Homo sapiens: one gene and its partner. The gene in region 1 interacts genetically with each later gene. Each region holds a gene or a part of one and is shown in the gene's direction. Other genes may lie near its edges. The genes, in order: PALM and KEAP1.

Region 1 (3,808 bases):
GCGTGGTGGCGGGTGCCTATAATCCCAGCTACTCGGGAGGCTGAGGCAGGAGAATCGCTTGAACCTGGGAGGCGGAGCTTTCAGTGAGCCGAGATTGCACCACTGCACTCCAGCCTGGGTGACAGACAGAGCGAGACTCCGTCTCAAAAAAAAAAAGCATTATATCACCTTTTTCTGAGTGTGGGCCCCTGTTTCCTCTCATCCTTTCTTGATCTAGGAAACCTGTCATTTGTTTATTGAACAAATAAATGCTCCCTCCTCACCATCCTCGTGCTGTGCGGGATCAGCAGGGTCTGGAAAGCTATGCAGCATCTTCTCTGAGGTGTGAGAAAGGCTTCCTCATCCAGTCCATCATGAACCTTTTCTGAGAAGGATGTTTCAGGGTTCATCCAGGCAGGCAGAAGGATGCACCTTGTGGAAGGACTGGCATGTGCAAAGGGCTAGAGGTGGGAAAGCATTGGAAGAAGAGAATGCTCTTTGGTGTTTGTTCCTGCTAGGCCTTGAGTGCCAGGATGGGGAGTCATGGATAGTGTGTGAGCAGGGGAGGAGCAGTGGCTGACCTGGTCATCAAAAAAGGCGCTGGCAGCTGAGGAGTGAGCCCAGGGAGGAGCAAGTCATGGCCAAGCCTTGATTGTGGCTGCAGGGGCAGCATGCAGAGAAATGGCAGAGCCAGAGGGGGCAGGACCCCACGTCTAGGAGGGCAAACACAGGATTCCAGAACTGCGTGTGGTCAGTGATGCCCACAGGGACGGGGCTCCCTGGCTGGGGAGAAGTAGCCTGGTCCCTGGATACATGAGGGGGTGGAGGGCGTCCTCTAGGAGGATGGCTGCGTGGACGTCTTGGTGTCTGAGGAGTGTAAAATCAGGCCAGAGTGGCTGTCTCCCGCCCCAGGGTTTCAAGCAGAAATTCAGGGACAGTCAGAGCCAGTCACCAGGACAGAGCCTGGACTGGGTGGGAAGAGGGAAGGGGAGCTAGGCCTTGGGATGGGGAAGACTTAGATTAGGGCTGGGCATGGTGGCTCACGCCTGTAATCCCAGCACTTTGGGAGGCCGAGGCGGGCAGATCACCTGAGTTCAGGAGTTCGAGACCAGCCTGGTCAACATGGTGAAACCCCCGTCTCTACCAAAAATACAAAAATTAGCCAGGCATGGTGGCAGGTGCCTGTAATCCCAGCTACTCGGGAGGCTGAGGCAGGAGAATCGCTTGAACCCAGGAGGAGGTTGCAGTGAGCCGAGATTGCGCCACTGCCCTCCAGCCTGGGTGACAGAGCGAGACTCTTTCTCTCAAAAAAAAAAAAAAAGAAAGTTTAGATTAGGACCAGAGTGAGGCCAGCTGAGTGGGAGGCGCTGCATGGTCAACAGACTGGTGGTGGGACAGGGCCAGGCCTGGGAGCCCCTCCTGGGTGGGCAGAGGCTGTGGGCAATGGAGGCAGAGATGCGGGACCCTGAAGGCCGGGGAGGGACAGAGGCCCAGGGTTCTTCAGTAACCCCTGTCAGGGAGCGAGAAGCTGATGTCCTCATCAGTTTGTATTCAAACGCTTCCAGCCATGGAAAGTCTCAGGGCAGGGCCAGCAGGGGTTTCAGCACTCCATGGGGGTTGGGAAGGACCCCAGCCCCTGGCCTGGCTCTTGTTGAGAAGGCTGGCATTCCCATTACACATGCACGTATACACACACGTACACAGGTATGTATACACACGTCTGTATGTATATCATTCTTAACAGCTTCATTAAAATACATTTCACACGCTACACAGTCTGGCTGCTTAAAGTGTACAGCTCAGGCGTTTTTAGTACACTGACAGGGTGTACTTTTTTTTTTTTTGAGACAGAGTCTCTCTGTCACATAGGCTGGAGTGCAGTGACGTAATCCCGGCTCACTGCAACCTCCGCCTCCCGGGTTCAAGTGGTTCTCCTGCCTCAGCCTCCTGAGCAGCGGAGATTACAGGCACGTGCCACCACGCCCGGCTAATTTTTGTGTTTTTAGTAGAGACGGGGTTTCACCATATTGACCAGGATGGTCTCAATCTCTTGACCTTGTGATCCACCTGCCTTGGCCTCCCAAAGTGCTGGGATTACAGGTGTGAGCCACCGCGCCCAGCAGAGTTGTGTATCTTTCACCACAATTGTAGAACATTTTCATCACCCCCAAAACAAGCCCTGTCCCCATTAGGCATCCCCTCCCGTCCCCCTCCCCCCAGCCCTCGGGGAGCCAGTCCCCTTCCTGTCTCTGGATCGGCAGGTCCTGGACATTTCGTAGACATGGGATCACACGCTGCGTGGCCTTCTGTGTCTGGCGTCTCTCACTGAGCGTGATGTCCTCAAGGTGCATCCGCGCCGTGGCCTGGGTCAGAGCCTCGCTCCTGTTCACGGCTGAGTCATGTCCCAGTGCGTGGACGGCCACATTGCGTTTACCCACACATCTGTGGATGGACACCCGGGTTGGTTTATCTGTGAATCTGTAGTTACCCCCCGAGATGGTTGGAGCTTGTGCTCTGTTCACACTGAGGAGTCCGGGTCCTACTTTACATAAGTGTAAGTCGTGACAGTGAGTTTCTTTAAAAAGAAGAGGCAGTGATCAGATGACAGGTGGCCCTGGGAGTGGCGGGAGTGTGAGAAGAGGGGGCCGGGATTGGGGGGACCTCTGGGTGGGGGCTTCCTCTGAAGATGGAAAGACCCTAATCGACTCCCTGGGGCAGCAAGCATTTATTGAGCACCTGCTGTATGCCTGGTGCCAGGGACATGGCAGGGACAAAAATGACACAGTTGCTGTCCTAGTGGGAAGACAAGATCACGCCTGTAATCCCAGCACTTTGGGAGGCTGAGGCGGGCGAACCACCTGAGGTCAGGAGTTCGAGACCAGCCTGGCCAACATGGTGAAACCCCGTCTCTACTAAAAATACGAAAATTAGCCGGGCGTGGTGGCATGTGCCTGTAATCCCAGCTACTCAGGAGGCTGAGGCAGGAGAATCACTTGAACCCAGGAGGCGGAGGTTGCAGCGAGCCGAGATCGCGCCACCGCACTCCAGCCTGGGCAACAGAGGGAGACTCCATCTCAAAAAAAAAGAAAAGAAAAAGATAAGTAAAGTGATCCGGGTGGTGACAGCTGCAGGGGTGCCTGGGGCTGAAAATTAGGACAGAAGAGGCCTAAATGAGGAGGTGACGTCTGCAGAAAGGCCTTGGGCCTGAGGCCCGGGGAGGTCTGGGTGACCGTGCACCAGGCAGCAATGCAGCCAGCACAATGGCCCTGCAGTGGGAGCTCTGTGGGACGTCTCAGGAGTGTGGCTGGAGTGCAGTCGCGTGGGGAGGGACCATGGGGCCTCTGCAGCAGGGTTTGCCCTGAGACCCTGCTGAAAGCCAGGGAAGGCCCCGTTCACGCCTCACTGCCCCGTCTTCCCCTGAGGGCCCGGGCAGGGTCCCTTCCCACCCCAGGTTAATAGGCAACAGGTTTGCTTCTCTGCATCTGTGGCCTGCTTTGACCTCCGTCTTCTCCTCTCCCCCGGGGTGATGCCTCTCTGCCGTAACCCGTTTAGGGTTCTCGGTGCCCCAGAGACTGGGATGGCCCTGGGGGCCTCCGTGCTGCATCCTGGGAGGGCTGGGAGGAGGTTCCTTCCTGGAAGGCTGCCTGGAGGAGGTGGCTGTGCTTGAGCTGATCTTGGCGGTGGAGAAGGGAAAGGGGAAGCTGGGAGCTGATGAAGGGTGAGGGGCTGACATTGGGGCTTGGACTCCGGGGCTTGGAGCAGGGCAGGGCGGTGGAGGAAGCAGGGCCGGGGGTGCCAGCGCTCAGGGGAGACACAGGCTCTGAGGACC
Region 2 (3,808 bases), 9.8 Mb from region 1:
CTGCTGTGTCTTCAGCACCCAGATCAGTGCCTGGCATACAGTAGGTGCCCAGTAAATGGTGAGGCAAATGAAGGAATGAGCTCAACATGCTCTAGAAAGGGAAAGGCCGCCAGATTGCTGAAGCAGAGTGATCAAAGGGAAGAGGTGGCAGGGGCTAATTGCGTAGGGCTTTGCAGGCTGTTGAGGAGTTCAGTTTTACTAGGTACTGTGGGAGGCATTGGAGGATCCAGAGCAGGGGAGAGACATGACTTCATGTATGTTTTAAGATGGGCTCTTGGGCCAATCAGGTTGATCAGGTCGGGGAAGTTTGCAAGTTTGCAAATGGATTCTGCTTCACCTACTTTGCAGGAAAACTGACCTAGGAATTGCTTTATCTTGCAAAACGAGGCCCGGCAGGTGCTGGCCCAGTCCCAACCCCTGCCCTCTGCCCTGTGCTCTCTCCCCTCCAGGTCCCTGAGTGCCAGAGGTGGTGGTGTTGCTTATCTTCTGGAACCCCATGCAGCCAGATCCCAGGCCTAGCGGGGCTGGGGCCTGCTGCCGATTCCTGCCCCTGCAGTCACAGTGCCCTGAGGGGGCAGGGGACGCGGTGATGTACGCCTCCACTGAGTGCAAGGCGGAGGTGACGCCCTCCCAGCATGGCAACCGCACCTTCAGCTACACCCTGGAGGATCATACCAAGCAGGCCTTTGGCATCATGAACGAGCTGCGGCTCAGCCAGCAGCTGTGTGACGTCACACTGCAGGTCAAGTACCAGGATGCACCGGCCGCCCAGTTCATGGCCCACAAGGTGGTGCTGGCCTCATCCAGCCCTGTCTTCAAGGCCATGTTCACCAACGGGCTGCGGGAGCAGGGCATGGAGGTGGTGTCCATTGAGGGTATCCACCCCAAGGTCATGGAGCGCCTCATTGAATTCGCCTACACGGCCTCCATCTCCATGGGCGAGAAGTGTGTCCTCCACGTCATGAACGGTGCTGTCATGTACCAGATCGACAGCGTTGTCCGTGCCTGCAGTGACTTCCTGGTGCAGCAGCTGGACCCCAGCAATGCCATCGGCATCGCCAACTTCGCTGAGCAGATTGGCTGTGTGGAGTTGCACCAGCGTGCCCGGGAGTACATCTACATGCATTTTGGGGAGGTGAGCGGGGAAGTGGGGCTGGGGGCAGTGTCAGGAGAAGGACCAGGGATGGACGAGTGCTCATCACTGTCTCCCCTTGAGATGTCAAGGCAGGAAACTGGAGAAAAAGGAGGTTCTGGGCTGGGTATGGTGGTGTAGTCTCCACAGTTTGAGGGGCTGAGGCGGGGGGATTGCTTCAGGCCAAGAGTTCAAGACCAGCCCAGGCAACATAATGACACCCTGTCTCTAAACAAACAAACACACAAACAAAAAACAACTGGGGCCGGGCGTGGTGGCTCATGCCTGTAATCCCAACACTTTGGGAGGCCGAGGCAGGTGGATCACCTGAGGTAAGGAGTTCAAGACCAGCCTGGCCCACATAGCTAAAACCCATCTCTACTAAAAATATAAAAATTAGCCAGGCCTGGTGGCGGGCGCCTGTAGTCCCAGCTGCTCAGGAGGCTGAGGCAGGAGAATCGCTTGAACCAAGAGGTGGAGGTTGCAGTGAGTGGAGATCGAGCCACTGCACTCCAGCTTGCGCAACAGAGCAAGACTCAGTTTCAAAAAAAAAAAAAATTAAAAAACAACTGGGGTTCTGAGTTCCTTGTCTACACATGTGGGGAGACTGGTGAACAGCTGGGGAAGGTGAGGTCTTCATATGTCTCTGGGCTCCCTGGTTTCTCTGGGGTCAAAGTGGGGCAGAGTGCAGTGAACAGCAGCCAAATCCTAGGGTAGCCCAGCCTTTCGGGCAGTCAGCAAATGTTTATTGGACACCCGTGACAGGCTGCAAGCTGTAAGTCTGAACCTTAGTCATGTTTTCTTTGGTCCACACAATGTCCTTATACTGTTTTTGGTTTCGTTTTCACATTTCTCAGTGAAGGAAATTATCTATAGAAATTGACAAGAGAGGGCAGGGCCCAGTGGCTCACGCCTGTAATCCCAGCACTTTGGGAGGCTGAGGCGGGTGGCTCACCTGAGGTCAGGAGTTTGAGACCAGCCTGACCAATATGGTGAAACCCCATCTCTAATAAAAATACAAAAAAAGAAAACTAGCCGGGTGTAGTGGCATGTGACTATAGTCCCTGCTACTCGAGAGGCTGAGACAGGAGAATCGCTTGAACCGGGGAGGTGGAGGTTGCAGTGAGCCGAGATCGCACCATTGCACTCCAGCCTGGGCGACAGAGCAAGACTCTGTCTCAAAAAAAAAAAAAAAAAAGCCTGGGCGCGGTGGCTCATGCCTATAATCCCAGCACTTTGGAAGGCCAAGGTGGGCAGATCACCTGCGGTCGGGAGTTCAAGACCAGCCTGACCAACATGGAGAAACCACGTCTCTATTAAAAATGCAAAATTAGCCTGGCATGGTGGCTCATGCTTGTAATCCCAGCTACTCAGGAGGCTGAGGCAGGAGAATCGCTTGAACCCGGGAGGCGGAGGTTGCAGTGAGCTGAGATTGCGCCATTGCACTCCAGCCTGGGCAATAAGAGCGAAACTCTGTCTCAAAAAAAAAAGAAAAAGTTTTTGAAGAGATGAGGTCTTGCTCTGTCCCCAGGCTGGAATACAGTGGTGCCATCATAGCTCACTGTAGCCTCCAACTCTTGGGCTCAAGGAGGCCTCCTATCTCAGCCTCCTGAGTAGCTGGGACTATAGGTATGCAGCACCACGCATGGCTAATTTTTTAGTTTTTAAATTTTTTTGTAGAGACAGGGTCTTGCTATGTTGCTGAGACTGGTCTCGAACCTCCTGGCTTTGAACAATCCTCTGGCTTTGGCCTCCCGTAGTGTTGGGATTACAGGTATGAAGCACCATACCAACACCAGGCCAAGAAGTGTTTATTGAGCACTTGCTGTGGGCCAGCCCCTGTTCTAAGTGATTTATGTCCTTTGCATCATTGACTGTTCCCAACTGTCCTATGAGGCAGTACTACCCTTCAGCCTAGGCAAGCAGGGCAGTGCCCCAGGCCCTAAGCCTTCGGGAGTCCCATGTCTTGGTGTTCCTTCCTGGAAATTTTCTAAGTCCCCCACTGGCTGGTACCAGCTGGGATGGATGTTACACTGATCTCTATTTCTCTCCTTCAGGGATAGATTCTTTCCTACCCTCTATGTTACATGTGGGGTTGATCAGACGCCCCAGGGTTCTCTGGCGTTAGTCCTAGGGCCTGCAGCTTCTAGGAAAGTGGTCTATACAGTAGGAGAAACATATACAGTGTTTCTTTCTTGTGTTTGTATGAACATGGGGTACTAGATTAAAACTGATTACATAGACGAGTGCCTGACAACTTTTTTTTTTTTTTTTGAGACGGAGTCTCACTCTGTCACCCAGGCTGGCATGCAGTGGCACTGTATCGGCTCACTGCAACCTCCATCTCCTGGGTTCAAGCAATTCTCCTGCCTCAGCCTCCCAAGTAGCTGGGATTACAGGTGCCTACCACTATGCCCAGCTAATTTTTAAAAAATATTTTTAGTACAGATGGGGTTTCACCATGTTGGCCAGGCTGGTCTCGAACCCCTGAGCTCAGGTGATCTGCCTGCCTTGGCCTCCCTAACTGTGCTGGGATTACAGGCATGAGACACTGCGCCCACGCCCGCCCCCCACCGCCCAGTCCTTTTTTGTTTTTGAGACTGAGTCTGGCTCTATCGCCCAGGCTGAAGTGCAGTGGCAAGATTTCGGCTCACTGCAAGCCTCCATGTCCTGGGT

Evidence for each region.
Region 2: changes in PALM (region 1) and KEAP1 together harm fitness more than expected from each alone (negative genetic interaction), as found in Homo sapiens cells (one large-scale study listed by BioGRID).

The regions. Positions count from the first base shown.
Region 1 is NC_000019.10:715,127-718,934, forward strand, and holds part of PALM (paralemmin-1), read left to right. Parts: intron 1-3,808. UniProt on the Homo sapiens protein: Involved in plasma membrane dynamics and cell process formation. Isoform 1 and isoform 2 are necessary for axonal and dendritic filopodia induction, for dendritic spine maturation and synapse formation in a palmitoylation-dependent manner.
Region 2 is NC_000019.10:10,496,722-10,500,529, reverse strand, and holds part of KEAP1 (kelch-like ECH-associated protein 1), read left to right. Parts: intron 1-449; 5' UTR 450-496; coding exon 497-1,135; intron 1,136-3,808. UniProt on the Homo sapiens protein: Substrate-specific adapter of a BCR (BTB-CUL3-RBX1) E3 ubiquitin ligase complex that regulates the response to oxidative stress by targeting NFE2L2/NRF2 for ubiquitination.